Linked DNA regions of Homo sapiens. The protein of the gene in region 3 purifies or fractionates together with the protein of the main gene of each other region. This does not show direct contact. Each region holds a gene or a part of one and is shown on either strand. Other genes may lie near its edges.

Region 1 (4,835 bases), on a different chromosome or scaffold from region 3:
TCTGAGAGAGACACAGACTCAGTCTGTTCCTGTGGTGGCCAGTGCCACTGCCCAGGGGCTATTCCAGGGGCTGCCCTCAAGGCTGCCTGTCGCGGAGACCCAGCCTCTAGGGTGGGAGTGGAGACTGGGAGCACAATGGGCAACAATGGTTTTTTTTCATTTTTTATTTTTAAACCTTATTTTTTTAGAGATAGAGTTTTGCCCTGTCACGCAGACAATGGCACAATCATAGCTCACTGCAGCCTCAACCTCCTAGGCTCAAGTCATCCTTCTGCTTCAGCTTCCGGAGTAGCTGGGACTACAGGTGTGTGTCACCACACCTGGCTAATTTTAAGACATTTTTTTGTAGGGACAAGGTCCTTTTATGTTTCCCAGGCTGGTCTTGAACTCCTGGCCTGATGCAATCCTTCTGTGTTGGCCTCCCAAAGCGCTGGGATCACAGGTGTGAGCCACCATGCCTGGCCAACAATGGTTTTTGAAAATTATTCCTCAGAGCCCTGACTTTCTGAAGGTCCTTAGGGGCTGCAGAGAGGCCTGTGCATGGGGGAAGGGAGGGGCCTGAGTCGGAGTTCCTCCCTGAGTCAGTGTTCCTTCACTCAATTCAAACGTTCACCTACCATCCAGCCAGTCCCATTCAACATAAAACCTTGATCCATTCCATCATGCCTACTCATTCATTTAGTCTATCTCTAAAGCCCTGGCACTTTCGTGATCAATCATTCAGATGTTTTCTCCATTCATTTGCTCATCTGTTCATCCTGTTATCCATCTACTCATTCAACCAACAACATATAATAAGCACCAACTATGGGCCAGGTACTGTGCTAGGTGCTTAAGATAAAATGGTGAGCTGGGCGCGGTGGCTCACGCCTGTAATCCAAGCACTTTGGGAGGCCAAGGCAGGCAGATCACGAGGTCCGGAGTTTGAGACCAGCCTGGCCAACATGGTGAAACCCCGTCTCTACTAAAAATACAAAAATTAGCCAGGTGCGGTAGTGGGCGCCTATAATCCTAGCTACTTAGGAGGCTGAGGCAGGAGAATTGCTTGAACCCAGGAGACGCAGGTTGCAGTGAGCGGAGATCGCGCCACTGCACTCCAGCCTGGGTGACAGAGCAAGACTCTGTCTTGGGGGGAAAAAAAAAGATAAAATGGTAAGAAAAGGAGACAGGGAGACTCTAAGCTTGAAGAGCCAGTGGGGGAGCAGGTGGCCTCAAAAGCGTCACACATGCAAACGTAGAACTGCGCTCGGGAAGCTCCCAGGGGAGATGTGCTATGGAGCTCTTGAAGGGCAGGATCTATGTTTGGGACTTCTGTGTCTAATTTTGTTTGAACACTAAGTTCCACAGTGGAAAAAAAAAAAAAGTCCAAATACCACCAACATGGTCAAAATCCTGGGCATGCTGCTTAATTAAAAAGCACACTGTGATGATCAAGGGCCAAGAGGTGAGGCAAAGCCGGACCAGCTCCTGTGAGGCCCATCAGGACTGTGCTGGACTCTCAAACTCCCGCACACCTGTTGACCCTGGGCAAATTTTAGTTTATGCCAATCACTCACACAGCGGGAGAGGAACGAAGAAACCTGCTGCCTACAGGCTTTGTCTGTACCCTGGCCCCTTGTTCTCAACCCAGGGTGAGCTGGCTGGTTCTTGTGAGGAGGCCCAACAAAGCCCCAACTTGCTGTTTGGTCTTGGCCAAGTCACTAGCTCCTTTTGAGCCTCTAGTTCTTCCTTTGTAATCATCACGTACCTCCTGGGGTTGCTGGGAAGGGGTAAACTAGTAAGGTGTCTAGCCCGTGACACTGCAGCTGTCAGCTGCCCCCACACCCCGTCTTCTCTAATGAGAATACCATGATCCTACCTTGGCTGGGCCCACACGCCACACCCGAGCCCATCGGCCAGCTCAGGAGGGAGAAGAGTGCGAAGACCCTGCGTGGAGAAGCCCAGGCCCATCCAGCCCTGCCCCTCCGGCCACACCTCCCCACTCACCCTCCAGCCTGATGCTCTGGGGAATCACCTCGAAGCGGACGACACGGTACGTGTGCTCCTGGTCCTCTTCCATGTCCTCCCGATGATAGTAAAGGATGAATGAGAGGTGGTTGTGCAGGTAGATCTGAAACACAGCAACAGAGAAAGCACAACAGAACATCACTTAGGGATACTCTCCAGGTATTAGGGCCCTTGCCTCACCCAGCATGCCTGGTTGTACCAACCTTCCTAAAACACTGTTCTCATCACTCCCCTACTCAGAAGCTCTTCAAGGGCTCCCTGCAGCTTATCAGACAAAAGCCCATTTCTCAAAGTCTGGCATTCAAGGCCTTCTATCATCTGACCCTGATACAACTGGGTGTAATCATCTAAGTCACATGAGTTCACCTAGACTCCCCTGTGCCCACCGCCCCATGAACCAGTCTCTACCCTGCAATCACTCCAACTAGAATGCCACCCCCAACTCCACTCAGCAAAAGCCCACCAACTTCTCATGGCCCACCTCCTCTGTGACAACCTGAGTGTAAAAGGAGCTCCCTCTGACCTCGCCTGCAATTAATGGCCAGTGAAAGGCAGCTGGGACTGGAGACTTAGAGCCTCCCACTGTCGGTTCTCTTCCCAGTTAGGACAGACGCCCTTTGGGGACAGGGGCTGCACCTCAAAACACATACTTTTGTAATTTATTCCCTAACTAATATCTTTCAGTTTAGAAAGAAAGATAAGAGAATCAGGGCTATAATCATCACATTATTAGCTGATTCTCCAGGGCTGTGCTGGGAAGGGCTCACACGAATGTGCTAATTTACCCCGCCACTGCTGCTGCATACATTTTACAGCTAAGGAACCACAGGCTCAGGGTCACTTAGACAACTAGTAACTGGGAGAGGAAGGATTCAAACCCAGGGAGCCTGCACGCTCTTGACCACTACTTAGCCCTCTCTCCTACATACTGATGAAGTTCCACGGTTTTTTTTTTTATGTTGTTTTAATCTTACAAAAATGGAACCTAACTTCCTAAGAATTGTGGCTTCACCTCCCTGTAGCACCTCCCAGGGACTTGCCCGGAGCACTCGGACCTCTGACAGACCATCATGCCCAGGGCACCTGGAGAAACTTGCTGTGGCCGAGCCCCACCTTTTCTGTGGCCCCAAGTGCTCAGGACTCGTGAGGTGTGGCTCCCGGTCCTGTGAGCACGCCAAAGACACTCTACCTTGTTGACATCTGTGAAGCCGAGCCGGTAGCCGTGTTCAAACTGCACATCTTTTTCCTTCTTCTTGTCATCGCTGTCTCGGTTGGAGTAGAGCTCCAGCCGGGTGGCCACAGGCAGGTTGTCAGCAATGCTGGAAAGTGAAGGCCCCACTCAGTCCCTCTCGACCGCCTCTCCCGTCAGTGTCCTCCCCTGTGTGAGCCTGAGGCAGCAAGGAGCACAGGGCGACTTACAGGTGGACGTAGTAGTCTTCTGTGATCCGCTCGGCCACGAGTCGGCTCTGCTCCACTGTCAGGGTCACTGGCTTGTTGGACTGGCTGCACAGAACTTCACACTTCTTCTCGCTGTTCATGAGAACCTGGAAAGGGGTGTTGACAATCCGGTCCCCTCTCAGCACCTCTCCTGCCGTAAGAGAGACAGATCAAGCTCAGAGCTTCAGCCCTGAGGTTGCTGAGGTCAGCAGAGTCACAGAGACACAGGACTGCGGGGCAAACATGGGCTTTCAAGGACTTCAGCAGTGCCTCAGCCTGGCAGCCAATGCCCTTCCCATTGCTTCACGCCCAACGGTCCCAGCTAACCTCGACCTGCCACCCTCCTCCTTTGGGCTCTAGTGCTACCAGACCCCTTAGCACTCAGCACTCATCAAGCATCACATCCTTTTTTTTTTTTTTTTTTTTTTTTTGAGATGGAGTCTCGCTCTGTCACCCAGGCTGGAGTGCAGTGGCACGATCTCAGCTCACTGTGAACTCTGCCTCCTGGGTTCAGGCCATTCTCCTGCCTCAGCCTCCCGAGTAGTTGGGACTACAGGTGCATGCCACCACGCCCGGCTAATTTTTTGTATTTTTAGTAGAGACGGGGTTTCACCCTGTTAGCCAGGATGGTCTCGATATCCTGACCTCATGATCTGCCCATCTCAGCCTCCCAAAGTGCTAGATTACAGGTGTGAGCCACCGCGCCCAGCCAAGCATCACATCCTTCTATGCCTCTGGGCCTCAGTCGCTTCCTTCTCCTAGAGTTCCCTGCCCCATGCTCCTGGCCTCCCCAGAAGCCCAGTTTCCATTTCACTCTCTCTGGGAAGCCCTCCCTAACCCCTTCAGGACAAGCCCATCACTCCCTCCCCTGACTGCCCTGTGTGAGGGCAGCATTATGCAGTGGAGGGATGACTCTGACTCTCGGCTGCCTGCCTTAGCAGTCTTGGTAAGTCACTCCATCTCACTGAGCCTCAATGTCCTCATCCATAAAATGGGATAATAACAGTATCCACCTCACAGGGTTACAGTGAGAAATAAAGGAAGTCAATCCAATAAAGTAGCAGGCACAGAGTAGGCAGGCATCAAACGCTCTTTTATCATCAGCATCCGTTCCTATGTCAAGGATTTACTTTGCACAATGTGCTGATACAGTCATGTTTCTGGCTCCCCTACCTGACTATGAGCTCGTTACTGTTAAGACTGTTTCCTATTTATCTCTGTGTCTTCAGATCCTGGTTCCAGCAGGGAGGGGAGTGGGGTGAAATCCAGCACCTGAGATTTTCAGGCAAAACGTCTTTTGACTCAATGAAGTGGCACCCCTTGTGTGCCTTTTGCCTCAGAGTAACTGCTGCCAGATGTCACCCTAACAGGCACTGAGCAGTTAGGGACTA
Region 2 (4,835 bases), on a different chromosome or scaffold from region 3:
GGCTGAAGCAGGAGGATCACTTGAGGCCAAGAGATTGCGACCAGCCTGGGCAACAACATAGCGAGACCCTGTCTCTACAAAAATAAAATAAAGTAATAATAATTAGCTTGTCATGGTGACTCACACTTGTAGTTCCAGCTATTCTGGAGGCTGAGGAGCCCAGGAGTTCAAGGTTAAAGTGAGCTATGATTGCCACTGCACTCCAGCCTGGGTGACAGACTGAGACCCTGGACCTCTCTTTTTTTTTTCTGAGACAGAGTCTCACTGTCACCCAGGCTGGAGTGCAGTGGCACGATCTCAACTCACTGCAACCTCTACTGCCTGGGTTCAAGCGATTCTCCTGCCTCAGCCTCCCGAGTAACTGGGATTACAGACGTGTTACCATATCCGGCTAATTTTTGTATTTTTAGTAGAGACGGGGTTTCACCATGTTGGCCAGGCTGGTCTTAAATGCCTGACTTCAAGTGATCCGCCCGCCTCAGCCTCCCAAAGTGCTGGGACTACAGGTGTGAGCCACCGTGTGTGGCCTCGTCTCTCTTAAAAAAAAAAAAAAGAAAAAGAAAAGCCATGACCACGTGACAGGCAGTCTACAAGAAAACCTTTAAATATAAACATATGGATAGGTTACAAATAAAAGCATGAGAAATGATGTACCAACCAAGGACAAATCTTAAGATAACTATAGTGGCTATCTTAGTATTAGACAAAGTAGACTTCAAGACAAGGAATATAACCAGACAAACAAGGACATAACATAATACTAAAAGGACCAATCCATCAGGAAGACATGACAATCATAAATACATCTGTATCCGTCAGACTTTCACAATATCTTAAGTTAAAAGAACTGAGAGGAGAAATAGATAAACTGATAATTATTCTTAGAGATTCCAACATTCCTCTCTCAACAACAGATAGAACAAATAAACAGAACATCAGGAAGCATATGTAAGTCTTGAATAACATTTGTAACCAACTTGACCTAACTGACATTTACAGAATACTAGATCCAACAAAGGCAAGGTACACATTCTGTTAAAGTGCAAATGGAAGATTCACCAAATTAGACTCTAAGTCCATTAAAAAAAAAGGCACAACTAAATAATTTAAAAGTATCATAATCATATGAAGTATGTTCTCTGATCCCACCAATTAAAACTCAATTACAGTAAGATTTCAGGAAAGTTCAAATATTTGGAAAATAAACTCAATTTACTAAACAACTCAGAGATGTAAGTAATGACAAGAAAAATTTGAAAATCACTTTGGCCTGCACAACAGTAAAAACATATCATCGAAATTTGTGGGATGCAGATGAAGCTGTACCTGGAGGGACATTTATAGTATTAAATACTTGTATTAGAAACAAAGAAATGCATGTGAGAACAAAGATCTAAGCATCTACCTTAAAAAGTCAGAATAAGAGCAAATTAAACCCAAAGTAAGAAGAAAGGAAATCGTAGACATAAGACCAGAAATCAATGAAACAAGAAAGGGACAAACAACAGAATTTAATTAATGACATCAAAAGGGGGCCCTCCAAAATGAACAGTAAAATGAATAAATCTCGATCTAGATTGATCAAGAAAAAACAAAATACAAATCACCAACATCAGGCATGAGAGGAGATCACTAGAAATTCTACAAACATAAACTTCTTTCAAAAAACTCCAGGCCCAGATGACTTCACTAGTGGGTTCTACCAAACATCTGAAGAAAAAAGAAAACCCAAAATCTTCCAAAATACAGAAGAGAAGGGAATACTATGTAACTTATTCTATGAAAATGGTATTACCAAGATACCCAGATACTCAAACCAGACAAAAATATCTCAAAAAAAGAATATCCCTTATGAATATAGACAAAAAACCTTCAACAAAATATTAGCAAACACTCTGACAACATATAAAAAGGATTATACACCATGACCAAGGTCATACAAAATTGGTTTAATATGTGAAAATCAACCAATGTAATATACTATATTAGAATAAGAAACAAAAACCACATGAGCACTTCACAAGTGCAGAAAAGCGAATGACAAAATCCAACAGCCTTTCATAATGAAGCACTCAGTAAACTAGGAATAATAACTTAATAAGGGCCATCCTGAGAAACCCACAGGTAACATCATACCTAAAGGCAAGACTGGATGCTTTCCCCTTAAGATCAGGAATAGACAAGGATCCCCACGCTCCCCTTCTATTCAACACTGTACTGGAGGTTCTAGCCAGGGCAAATAGGTAAGAAAAATAAATAGAAAGAACCCAGACTAGAAAGAAAGAAGTAAACCTGTGTCTATTCACAGATGACATGATCTTACACAAAGAAAACCCTGTTGGAACCAACAAATGAGTTTGGCAAGGTTCTAGGATAGAAGATCAATAATCAAAATCAATTTTGCTTCTATACAGTACTAATAAACCAAAATAAAATTAAGAAAACAATTTCATTTACACTAGCATTGAAAATAACACTTAAGAATAAATTTTAAAGGGGAGATGCAAGAGTTGCGCACCAAAAATTATAGAGCATTATTGAAACAAATTAAAGAAGATCTACAATAAATGGAAAGACATCCTGCGGCTAGGGATTAGAAGACCTAATGTTGTTAAATTGGCAATACTTCACAAACTCATCTACAGTTTCAATGCAATCCCTGTCAAAACCGCAGCTGGCTTTTTTATTGTTGCAGAAATTCACGTACAGATCCTAAAATTCACATGGAAATGCAAGGGAGGCAGAACAACCAAAACGATCCTGAAAAAGAATATACTGTGATCGAATGTTAAGTATCGACAGCATCCCAATCATAAACCCGAAACATTTAAAAACAGAAGGTAACTGGCAGGAATACGGCTTGCTGGAAAGCTGCAAGTGGCCCACGCAATTAGTAACAGCCACCTCTTTGCTCTGGCATAAATCTCAACCTTAATCAGAAGAAACTGCATCTGGCAAGAGGAGAGTGAAACTGGGTTTCTAAAACCACTACTTTTTTGAGAGAGGGCCTAGTTACAACCGAGACACTGCTTAGCAACAAAATCCTTTAGGAACTTACTCATTTCCAAAGTCATGATGGGAGCATTAACAACAACACAAATCAATGTTCAGGGCTTTAAATATAAGACCTTTTTGCCCATTCCCAGATCACATGGAATAAATCCTTTGCTAAACATTTGTAATTAAACAAAGATAAGCAGCAAGGTGACTGATCTTGCCATTCTCTTTTCCATATGAACTTCAGGTTATCTGACTCAATCTCTATGTTCCACTCTCTCTCACCCTGTGTTTGGAGTAGGGAAGAGAATGGATTTCACTGTCATAGGAGGAACAGCCTCCTCAGTGCTCTGACAATCAAGTAAAACAGTGCTCGAAAACAGACTCCTGGTCAGTGCTCTCCTTCAAGTATTACTAGCTGCTTTCCTGCTTTCTTGATTAGAATGGTTTTAATCTATTTTTCAATACCAACATCGGAGAGGTAAAAAGCAATGACTCCCCACAGCAGTATTTCTCAGTCTAGACAAGGAATCATGAGAAGAAAGGGCAATATCAGAATTTTAGACGGCCGTGGTGGAGGGTGGGCGTGGAACTCTTGCACTCCTTCTCAGACTATTTTTATTAGTTTATAGATAGCATAACTTCGGATGAAAAAAAAAAGGGGGAAGGTTTTCCAAGACCTATAACATGCCATGTACTTTAGAGACTTGCTCCTCGCAACAACTCTCTGCCATGGGTTAGCACTGCCCCATTTATAAGTGAAGAAACAAGAAACAAAGTATAAGAATTGAAAACTGTAGAAAGAAAAAAATGACAGAAGATTTATCCTATCATATCAGGTCTACATACCTGGTACTTCTAGTAGCAAAAAGTAAAGCCCAGCGGCATGAAGGCCATATTCTCGATACTGTACACTGACATTCTTCTTATGAACTATTTGAACAAAATGATAGAACAATGCCACCAGTGTACTATGGGAAACATTGTTCTCAATGAAGAAGGTCCAGATACTCTGTGGGGAGACCGCAAATCACAAAAGCCAGTCATTAGAGAAATGGAAACATTTCCTATTATTTGATTTTTGTAAGTTCTTGGTGCCTTACAAAAAGAGGAATAGAGTAGCCTGGCTCCTACTGCTAAATGTTTACCATCTTCAAAGGGACTGAAACAAAATATCAAAATTAAAGGTATATTATTCAAAATTACCAAGATAAATATGTATATAACATATTTAAATAATTAAACTTTCAAAAGAATTTTTTGTTAAGTTTGTAGCATATATACTTCAGAAATTATAGCTTAAAACTACACTAAGACTTTTGGGACACCATATATTAGTGATTATTCAGGAAAGTTATCCCTCTATTTATATTAAAAGGAACTCAAATTCCTTTACCAATAATTACTAACTGAGGAAATCAGAGCCCTTTATTTAAATGTTCTGCAGATTGCAGGCAATGGGAGCAGGAAATGAAAGAGATCTCGGAAATGGCCCAGGTAAAGGAGATAAACCCTAGAAAAGAAACCACAATTGTATTAATTCTATCTTCATTCCATGTCTTCTCCTACTAAACACATGAAGAAGAAATGGGTTATTTTAATAACCTAAACATAGCAGGAACTAAATATGGTTTATCCTTGAGTATCGTAACAAAAAAAGGCCCACAAAATTCAAGTGAGCAGAGCACTCTCCTTTCCTTAACTAAAAAACTTACGGGAGAAATCATCTCCACTGGGCACAATGGCTCATGCCTGTAATCCCAGCACTTTGAGAGGCCAGGGCAGGAGGACTGCTTGAGCCCAGGAGTTTGAGAACAGCCAGGGCAACAAAGCAAGAC
Region 3 (4,835 bases):
TTGACTGGCAGAAGCAGAAAAGCTCTATTAAAGCTGTTGTAAACAGAAAGTAAATACTACATATTTCCCTGGGAAAGAAATCCTGAATGAGCTCAGATCTTTTTCAATCATGACTTGAAACCAGAGACCAGAAGATCCAGGAATAGTTTCTTGCTGACAGGGAACTTCCACGAGCTTTGTCTGAAGTCCCTGTCCCTGAATAGGATGATGCCTCACAGAGGAGATGACATCTATTTCTCAGAATCTCTTTTTAGCCAAGATGCCAGCCAGTCAGGGTCTTTAACATGAGGCTAGGGCACTGGTTCTCAACCAGGGGAGATTCCCACCCCGCTCGTGCCCCTTGGACATTTGGCAGTGTCTGGAGACATTTCTGGTTGTCAGCACTGCCGCAATGCTACGGGCATGTAGGGGGCAGAAGCCGGGGATGCTGCCAAACATCTTCCAACAAATAGGACACCCCCCTGCCACAAAGCATTATCAAGCCCCAAATATCAATAGTACTGAGTTGAGAAACTGGGTTGGAGGAACCTGCACTCATCATCTACAAACTCTGAAAAAGTTCCATGATCCCAGCCAAGATCCCTTCCCTTAGGTTTAAGGAAGTTGGTGACAGGAAGCACTCTTTCCTGAATTCCAGAATATTGCAATTAAATACTTTTACACCTAAGGTTGAGTACTTAAGTGGATTTGGGGGAATACAGTCATTGTCAATGGTACTTAATTTATATACCTAGATTAAAAACAAACTTTAAAAAAGTCACACTTCTGTAGCCAGGGGATGAAATCAAATAATCAATTGACTTCAGAGTACCTGACAGTTCTTCACCAGTCACTGTGTAACTTAACAATGATAAGACACAGGTTTTCTAGCATTGTTTATATTCCAAGTACTTACCAAAGATAAAACATTTGGAAAAGTGAAAAATGTTTTCAAATTTGGTTGAAAAGTTTTAAACAGTTGGAACTCAGAGGCATTGCTTTTCCCTTAGATCAGTGAGAAATGAAAGCTGCTTGTAATACTAAATTCAGCACTCACGAGACAGTCTCTGGGATTTCATCTTCCTTTTTGAAGCGACCTGACCATATGAGGATCTTTTTCTGCCAATCCGTAGGTTTGTGTAAAGGCACTCTGTTGTAAGTGCCTATGAGAAAAACCAGACAAGAAATTTTATGTGTTTGAGATTATAACTCTCAAATTTAACAACAGAAAAATGGTATTAGTGCTTTTTAACTAGTCACTAAACAGAAACACTGAGAAACCTCAAGTTAATTAGAACTTTATTTGAATGGAATTTCTTAGGATGCTTCATTTTCCAAATAAGATTATAAAATCCCAAGGAAACGGTGAGGAGCTTGTCTGACTTCAGCAGACTAAGAAAAAGTTTGTAAGGTACAATCAGATTTTACCAGATCTTGAATGTCAGGCTAAGGGGTTTAGACTTGATTGGGAACTACTGTACATTTTGAAACAAGGAAGAAACTAATGTTTTAGGAAGGCTTATTATCTGTACAATGGATGGAGACAGAAAAGGGGGACACGGTAGAGTGGGCAAAAAGTCCAAATGGGAGCCTGTAATACCATGGTGAGCGGATATTCTCTGAACCAGAGTTGTCGCAGTGGAAAGAGAGATGAGGTCAGTCTGAGGATGACTGAAAGAATGTGGAGACTGGTTAAGACAAAGAGGAAGGAGTCACGAAGAACCTCAAACTTGGATGACTAAGACAACAGCAGTATTGTAACTAAAAGAAGACGGGAAAAGACCCAGTTGGGGAAGGAAAGAGCATGAATACTACTTAAAGATTTGCTGACTCTGAAGGGAATATATGCCATCTGAGTCATTTCATTAATAAGTCGGGAATAGAGATAAAAATCAGTGCAAAGGGAGAGCCAGTGAGGGTGATAAGGAGAAGGCCCTGCTTATATTTTACCTAACGCATAATATCTTAATTTGGTTCATCTTTAGAGTTCTTTAAAACATAATTTCTGGACTACTATTTACTTTGGTGCATCCATTCTCCTACAGAAAGCTCCAGTCCAACCCTACAGGCAAGAAGATGAAAATGACAAATGCTGAAAATGAAGAAACCACTGTGCATGTGCCCATGACCAATATTAATACAACATGGGAGGTCTGCTGTAGGAACATGGGCCTACGTATGAGTAAAACATGAGAAGTGTGACGTAGGAAGATGGGCCTGCATATGAGTAAAACATGGGAGGTATGATGTAGGAACATGGGCCTACGTATGAGTAAAACATGAGAAGTGTGATGTAGGAAGATGGGCCTGCATATGAGTAAAACATGGGAGGTATGATGTAGGAACATGGGCCTCCCTCAGGCCTCCCATGTTGTGCTCATATTGGTCATGTGCACATGCACAATGTGAACACAATGTGTTCTCTCTACATGGGAGGGTATGATATAGGAACCTCTTCTCTTTTGGGTTCTTTTGATTCCAAGTTTTCCTACTCTTTGGGAGCTACCAACTCCATAAATAGAAAAAATAAAAACTTACGGGATGGAGCTCCGGGACTTTCCTGTGGTTTTGTGCAAAATCCATTTATTCTCTTCAAATCAGAGCTTCTGGTAAGCCTTAGAGATGAGGAAACATCTCTTTCACATAACCTAAAACAGCTTCCTAAAAAAGAGAGGAAAATGTTTCAAAGAAAGAAAGAAAGAAAATGTGATGTTTTCTCAAAATAAGAAATACCCGCAAGTTACGTTTCATTTATAAAAGGTAGTTCATTTAGGAAATGAATTTACTATATGTAAGATACACATAGTATATTTAAAGTGCTATGCTTGATGCTGTTTTAAAATATAAATGTTTTATTGATTAGGAAATTAGGAATTTACAACATAAAAATGTTATCAGCTGTAAATTTTAAATAAGTACTTCCCACATGTGTCTTATCATAACAATGGCTCTGGTGGCAATATTATGTATTATGGCATCAGGGCTGTTTAAGTAAAGATTAGTAACCTCCCAAAAGTGATAAACTAGGTAACCAAGTTGCCAATACGATGCTGATAAACTGGTTAGGGGGCTGCAGTGGTCAGCAAGTGACTCTAGAAAGCCTTGCTCCTTGCAAGCCACAAGTCCTTAATTAGAAATCAATTTTAGATGTAGTTTTGAACTACATATAACTTTAAAACTATATATATAATATATATAGTTTATTTTAAAAATTTAAACTCAAAGCACAGATAGTAGCATTACGAACCCCTATATACTCATCACCCATTTTCAACAATGATCGCTATATGGCTAATAAATACCATTTAACCTCTATAAAAACCCTGGAAGACAACCTAGGCAATACCATTCTGGACATAGGAATGGGCAAAGATTTCATGATGAAGATGCCAAAAGCAACTGCAACAAAAGCAAAAATGGACAAATGGGATCTAATAAATTTAACTTTTACTGTGCAGAAACTAAACAGGTTCTGCACAGCAAAAGAAACTATCAACAAACAGACAACTTATAGAATGAGACAAAATTTTTGCAAACTATGCATCTGACAAAGGTCTATATCCAGCTCTATAAGGAACTTAAACAAATTATCAAGAAAAAAAACACCAGCCCATTAAAAGGTGGGCAAAGGACGTGAGCAGACACTTTTCAAAAGAAGACATACGTGCAGCCAACAGGCATACAGAAGAAAAAGTAACATCACTGATCACTAGAGAAATGCACATCAAAACCACAATGCAATACCATCTCACAACCAGCCAGAATGGCTATTTTTTTTTTTTAGATATATACTATTTTAATCAGACTATACTTCCAACATTTCACAGATGAAATTATAATCACCTGAGCTTTTAAAAAATAAAAATTAGGCACAAATACACTTACTCATAATTGCACTGGCAAACAGTTCTTATAAGATACTTAAATCTTTGCGAAGAGATAGCCCCCTTCTTTTCCCACGTGCTCTCAAGTCAAGCCTGATCTCTCTCCCTGTCACCCATAAAATCTCACTTATGTTCCATTAACCAGGATCACATGAACCAACCTGAAAGAAAAGGAGTTCTCTGTCTATATAATCATGTTGGCAAAATAAATCGACATATGTTTAACAAAAGCACACAAAATAAGAGATACAATCAGGTGAATATTATAAGTCATTCTTTCATCATTAACATAAAATTGTAATTCTACTTTTGTAAATTTTATCAACAGACTCTCAAATGCCACACTTGATATATACATATAATAATAAGAAAAAATAAATGAAAAATGCATTTTCAGATATATTAAAGAAAATCACTGTTTTATGAAAAATAAGCAAAGCAGCATTACAGTTATTACTCAACTTTCAAAAGGTTACACAAGACTCTTGCTGGCAAATATTAGGATAAGACATTTTCATAGAAATATCTTAAGTATATATGGAAAACAAAACATATTTAAGATATTAAGATATAAGATGTATTTATGATTTAAAATAATCTCTACACAATTATTCTGCACATCACGAGAATATTCAAGACTCTATTGACTTTCTCCCCAATGAACATCTCTATATAGTAACGATATTCTCAGTCTTTTTTTTTTTGTTTTGAGATGGAGTTTCGCTCTTGGTGCCCAGGCTGGAGTGCAGTGGCGCGATCTCGGCTCACCGCAACCTCTGTCTCCCAGGTTCAAGTGATTCTCCTGCCTCAGCCTCCCACGTAGCTGGGAATACAGGCGCCTGCCACCATGCCCAGCTAATTTTTTTGTATTTTTAGTATAGACGGGGTTTCTCCATGTTGGTCAGGCTAGTCTCAAACTCCTGACCTTAGGTGATCCGCCTGCCTCGGCCTCCCAAAGTGCTGGGATTACAG
Region 4 (4,835 bases), on a different chromosome or scaffold from region 3:
ATTGTATTACCTTATTCAAAATATTAGCAACTTTAGTTAATGCTTCCTCAGTGGTAACTTTTGCACTTACGTTATTCTTGATTCAGTGTGTTCATTTCACTGTAGATGTCATTCATCTTACACCATAAGTTGGTTTTTGTTTTGTTTTTAATCAGATGATGGTGGTGCTACCCCAGTACAGGATGAACGGGATTCAGGGTCAGACGGTGAGGATGATGTAAATGAGCAACACTCCGGATCAGACACTGGAAGTGTAGAACGTCATTCAGAGGTATTGGCTAACCAACATCTTTGGGAGGGCTTTTCCCTTGCGTTCTGTGAGATCTGTTATATTATAGGAGTTACAGAATCTCTGTGACAGAGTTTAGGGTTTAATCTCTGAGAGTAAAGGAGCATAAGTTAATAGAAAACCGCTTGAAAAATAAATAGGGATGGTCTGGTTACTGTTGAAATCACAGTGAAATATGTTCTGATTGGGTCACATTTCAAATGTTAGGCAGTTTTCAACTGTGCATATTGATTCAGAAAATGGGCCCGGCCTTTGATATTTGACTAAGTTTCCCTATTCTGCAATAATGTCATAGTGGGGCATTGAGCATTTGCAATCTGAAGAAACACCACTTGAAATAGAAAGTTATGGGGGTTATCACCTGTCAACATTTATGTCAGCATTTGCCCTTCTGATTTTGAACTGTTACGGTGTATATAATGTATGTAATAATAATGCTTTTTTTTTTGAGACAGGGTCTGACTCTGTAACACAGGCTGGAGTACAGTGGTGAGACCTCGGCTCACTGCAGCCTCTGCCTCTGGGCTCAAGCTATCCTCCCACCTCATAGCCTCCCGAGTAGCTGGGACTACAGGCACAGGCCACCACGTCCAGCTATTTTTGTTTTCTTGGTAGAGATGGGGTTTCACCATGTTGGCCAGGCTGATCTCAAACTCCTGACCTCAAGTGATCTGCCCACCTCAGCCTCTCAAAGTGCTAGGATTACAGGCGTGAGCCACCACACCTGGCCTGCAAATATAATTTTAAGAGCTGTTTTTGTTTAATAATATGTAATAGTATTGGGTTTTGTGTACATTTTAACGTATTTGCTCTAATACATAAATATTTCAGAACTGCTTTATTTTCCTTTCTGTTTATACATCATGTTAACAAGATAAAATTGGGAAATTTTTCAATAAGTTCGCCGTAAGTCTTTGGTAGATACGACTGAAACAAATAGGAATGATAAAGATGCAAAGATTTAAGAACTTTCTATGCCTTATATTTTTCTTGATTACACATATGCAGAAAATTGTCCAATTTTTAGTAGGTGTGATTAGAGATTATATTGACTCTGTCCTTTGACAGCAACATTAGCATATCATACATTCAACAGGTATTTATTGAGCACCTAATATGTGTCAGACTTTTTGCAGGTGCTTTGGACTTATCAGTGACTAGAAGTTAAAATCCTTCTCTTCTTAGGTTTGTTTTTCCAGTAGGAGGAGAAAGACATTAAGCAATAAACATTTTTTTTTAATTGTGTAGTCTGCTAGAAGATAACAAATGCTGTGAAGAAAACAGATAATTAGAACAAAGGATGGAGGGCAGGCTTTGGTGTTAAATAGGGACCATATAGGTCTTTTATTAAGAAAGTGACATTTGAACCAAGGTGTGAAGGGAGGCAAAGGAATAGCCGTGTGGATATGGACGTTTAGGGGAAGAACATCCCTGGCAAAGACCCCAAGGTGAGAGTGTGCTTGATATCTTCAAGGAGCCAGTGGAACTGAAATGGGGTCATTAAGGGGTAGGGGAGGTCAGAGAACTAAATGCGGGTGTGGAAAAGGCTCATCTTTTATATATTTTGATGTCACTCAGGTTTTTTCTGTGCTTTTAAACATTCAGAATAAATTCCAATATTTTAATTGATAGTTGGAAGTTACTTAATAATGTATATGTTGTTACAGCCAGTGCATTTAGTGCATGATATTTTAAGTTTCCTCTTTGGAAACAGCATTCAGAGATTAATCATGGTCAGTTTAGAGCCCAGTAGGGTAGTCATCTCATGGCCTCATGGTGCAGTTACAAGTTCAGGTTACCCTAAGCATCTTTGTTTTTTTATAATATGGATTCTAAATAAATAAGTGTGGCTGTTTTTGAAAATTTGGAAATCACAGACTGTCCCAGACTTAAACTATAATTTGACTTAAAAATTTTCAACTTTGCGATGTTGCAAGTGCTGTATGTATACTTTGAGTACCCATACAACCGTTCTGTTTTTTCACTGTATTCAGTAAATTACATGAGATACTCAACATTCTATTATAAAATAGGTTTTGTGTTGGGTGATTTTGTCCAACCGTAGGTCTTACCTCTGTAAGTGTTTGGAGCACATCTAAGGTAGGCTAGGCTAAGCTGTGATGTTTGGTAGATTAGATGTATGAAATGCGTTTTTGGCTTAATTATATTTTCAGCTTACTATGGGTGTATCAGGCTGTAACCCCATAATAAGTTGAGGCACTCCTGCATCTGTGAAGTTTAAAGAAAAAAATTAAAACCAGCATAGTCCAACTACAGAAATGACTATGAGCCTTTTCACATTATTTATCCTGCAGTTTCATTCTGTCCCAGGTATATGACGTCTATATATTTTAACTTTACTTGAGATGTTATTATATATATTTTGTGTCTTTCTATGTATATATTTTGAGACAGAGTCTCACTCTGTCCCAGGCTGGAGTGCAGTGGCATGATCTTGGCTCACTGCAACCTCCGCCTCCCAGGTTCAAGCAATTCTCCTGCCTCAGCCTCCAGAGTAGCTGGGATTACAGTGCGCTACCACGCCTAATTTTTAGTATTTTTAGTAGAGACAGGGTTTCACCATGTTGGCCAGGCTGGTCTCAAACTCCTGACCTTGTAATCCACCGGCCTTGGCCTCCCAAAGTGCTGGAATTACAGGTGTGAGCCACTGTGCCCAGCCTATGTATTATTTTTTATCTCTTCACTTAAGATGATACTTTTAAGTGTTTCCCCACGTCATTAAAGATTCTCAATAAGCGTAATGTTTAATGGTTTCACAATATGGATGCAGCATCACTTATTCAGCAATTTTCTAATTGTTGTCATTTATGCTGTTTAGCTATTGTATTAAATAACTGAAGCTGCCCTGAAGATTTTTGTACATAAACATTTGTGATCATTTTTTATTGTTTCCTTAGAAAGCTGCCAGGAGAATTAACGAGATTAGAGACTAAGACATTTTAAGGCTCTTCATAGAAATTCCTCTCCAGGAAGGTTATGGTAATTTGCTAAACCACTAGTACTTCAAGAGTGCCAGTTGTACTGTGTATAAGTGTTGAGTTCTGTATTAATGTTCTTTTGCCTGTTTAAAATGGCTTTTAAGAAGACATTTTGTTTTCTCATTAAACATTTTTTTTTAGAAGTAATGGGATGTTAAAAGAGTACGGTTGCATTAAATGAAGCAGTGCAAAGGCCGGGCGTGGTGGCCCTTGCCTGTAATCCCAGCACTTTGGGAGGCCGAGGTGGGTGGATCATGAGGTCAAGAGATCGAGACCATCCTGGCCAACATGGTGAAACCCCGTCTCTACTAAAAATACAAAAATTAGCCAGGCATGGTGGTTTGCGCCTGTAGTCCCAGCTACCTAGGAGGCTGAGGCAGGAGAATCTCTTGAACCCGGGAGGTGGAGGTTGCAGTGAGTAGAGATCACACCACTGCACTCCAGCCTGGCGACAGAGCGAGACTATGTCTCAAAAATAAAAACAAAACAAAAAAAATGGGGCAGTACAAATTACAGGTCCAAAGCCTGAAAGATACTAGTTTCCTCTTGAGGCTGTAACAACTTGATACAACTTGGTGGCTTAAAACAACGAAAAATTATTATCTTATAATTCTGGAGGTCAAGTCCAAAATGGGTCACACTGTACTAAAATCAAGGTGTCCCAGGGCTGTGTTCTTCTCTGAGGGAAGATACATTTCCTTGCTTTCTTCAGTTTGTAGTGGCTACCTGCATTTCTTGGCTGAGGCTCCTTCCTCCATCTTCAAAACCAGCAGCATAGCATCTTCACAACTCATTTTCTGACCTCTTGTTTCTGTCATCATATCTCTCTCTTACTCTGACCTTCCTGTATCCCTCCTGTAAGAACCTTTGTAATTATAATTGGGCCTACCTGGATAATCCAGGGTAATGTCCCTATTTCAAGGTCCTTACCTTAATTACATTTGCACAGTCCCTTGCATGTAAAGTGACATATTCACAGGTTCCAAGGGTTAGAACGTGGACATTTTTGAAGGGCCATTATTTTGCTACCATAAGATGGTACTCACAGCATAATTTTCCCAATAATGGTATTTTTTTTTTTAAACCCCTCATCTGTATTTTAGAATTTAGGCTAGTATTTTTTTTAAATTCATTTCACCTATAGTATTTACTCAGTGCACACACACGCACACACACACACACACAATCTTTAAGATAGTGGTCAGTATAGGAAATACTGATAAGATTTTGAAGACCAGTAACTTTTGCAGATTTCTTAACCACTTTATTAGAAAGCTCCTTTAGTTATTAAAAAAAAAACTTATTTTTTCTTAAAGTAATTGTATATGTCTATAAATAATCTCAGACAGGTGACAGAACAAGTCTCATATCAGACTACCTTAAGAAAACAAGAGTTTACTGTAACACATGTATGTAATGGGCTGTAAATCTTTCTGTCTAGGTAGCTTGTTCTGTCCATCTGTCATTGATGGCCCTGCCTAATGGCCATTTCTAATAACATCTCTGTTTATTCTTGTATGGTTGGCTTTATTTTTTTCTCCAAGATT

What was found. Proteins that work in one complex are often made in the same cells at the same time.
Region 1: the proteins of FAM162A (region 3) and TM9SF4 fractionate together in Homo sapiens (co-fractionation; one large-scale study listed by BioGRID). This does not show direct contact.
Region 2: the proteins of FAM162A (region 3) and NCAPD3 purify together in Homo sapiens (co-immunoprecipitation; one large-scale study listed by IntAct). This does not show direct contact.
Region 4: the proteins of FAM162A (region 3) and IWS1 fractionate together in Homo sapiens (co-fractionation; one large-scale study listed by BioGRID). This does not show direct contact.

What each region holds. Positions count from the first base shown.
Region 1 is NC_000020.11:32,140,257-32,145,091, reverse strand, and holds part of TM9SF4 (transmembrane 9 superfamily member 4 isoform 1 precursor), read right to left. Parts: intron 3,596-4,835; coding exon 3,427-3,595; intron 3,327-3,426; coding exon 3,197-3,326; intron 2,111-3,196; coding exon 1,987-2,110; intron 2-1,986; coding exon 1-1. UniProt on the Homo sapiens protein: Associates with proteins harboring glycine-rich transmembrane domains and ensures their efficient localization to the cell surface.
Region 2 is NC_000011.10:134,213,090-134,217,924, forward strand, and holds part of NCAPD3 (condensin-2 complex subunit D3), read right to left. Parts: intron 4,010-4,835; coding exon 3,847-4,009; intron 1-3,846.
Region 3 is NC_000003.12:122,400,565-122,405,399, reverse strand, and holds part of FAM162A (protein FAM162A), read right to left. Parts: intron 2,641-4,835; coding exon 2,518-2,640; intron 1,143-2,517; coding exon 1,037-1,142; intron 1-1,036. UniProt on the Homo sapiens protein: Proposed to be involved in regulation of apoptosis; the exact mechanism may differ between cell types/tissues.
Region 4 is NC_000002.12:127,519,112-127,523,946, reverse strand, and holds part of IWS1 (protein IWS1 homolog), read left to right. Parts: intron 1-155; coding exon 156-271; intron 272-4,835.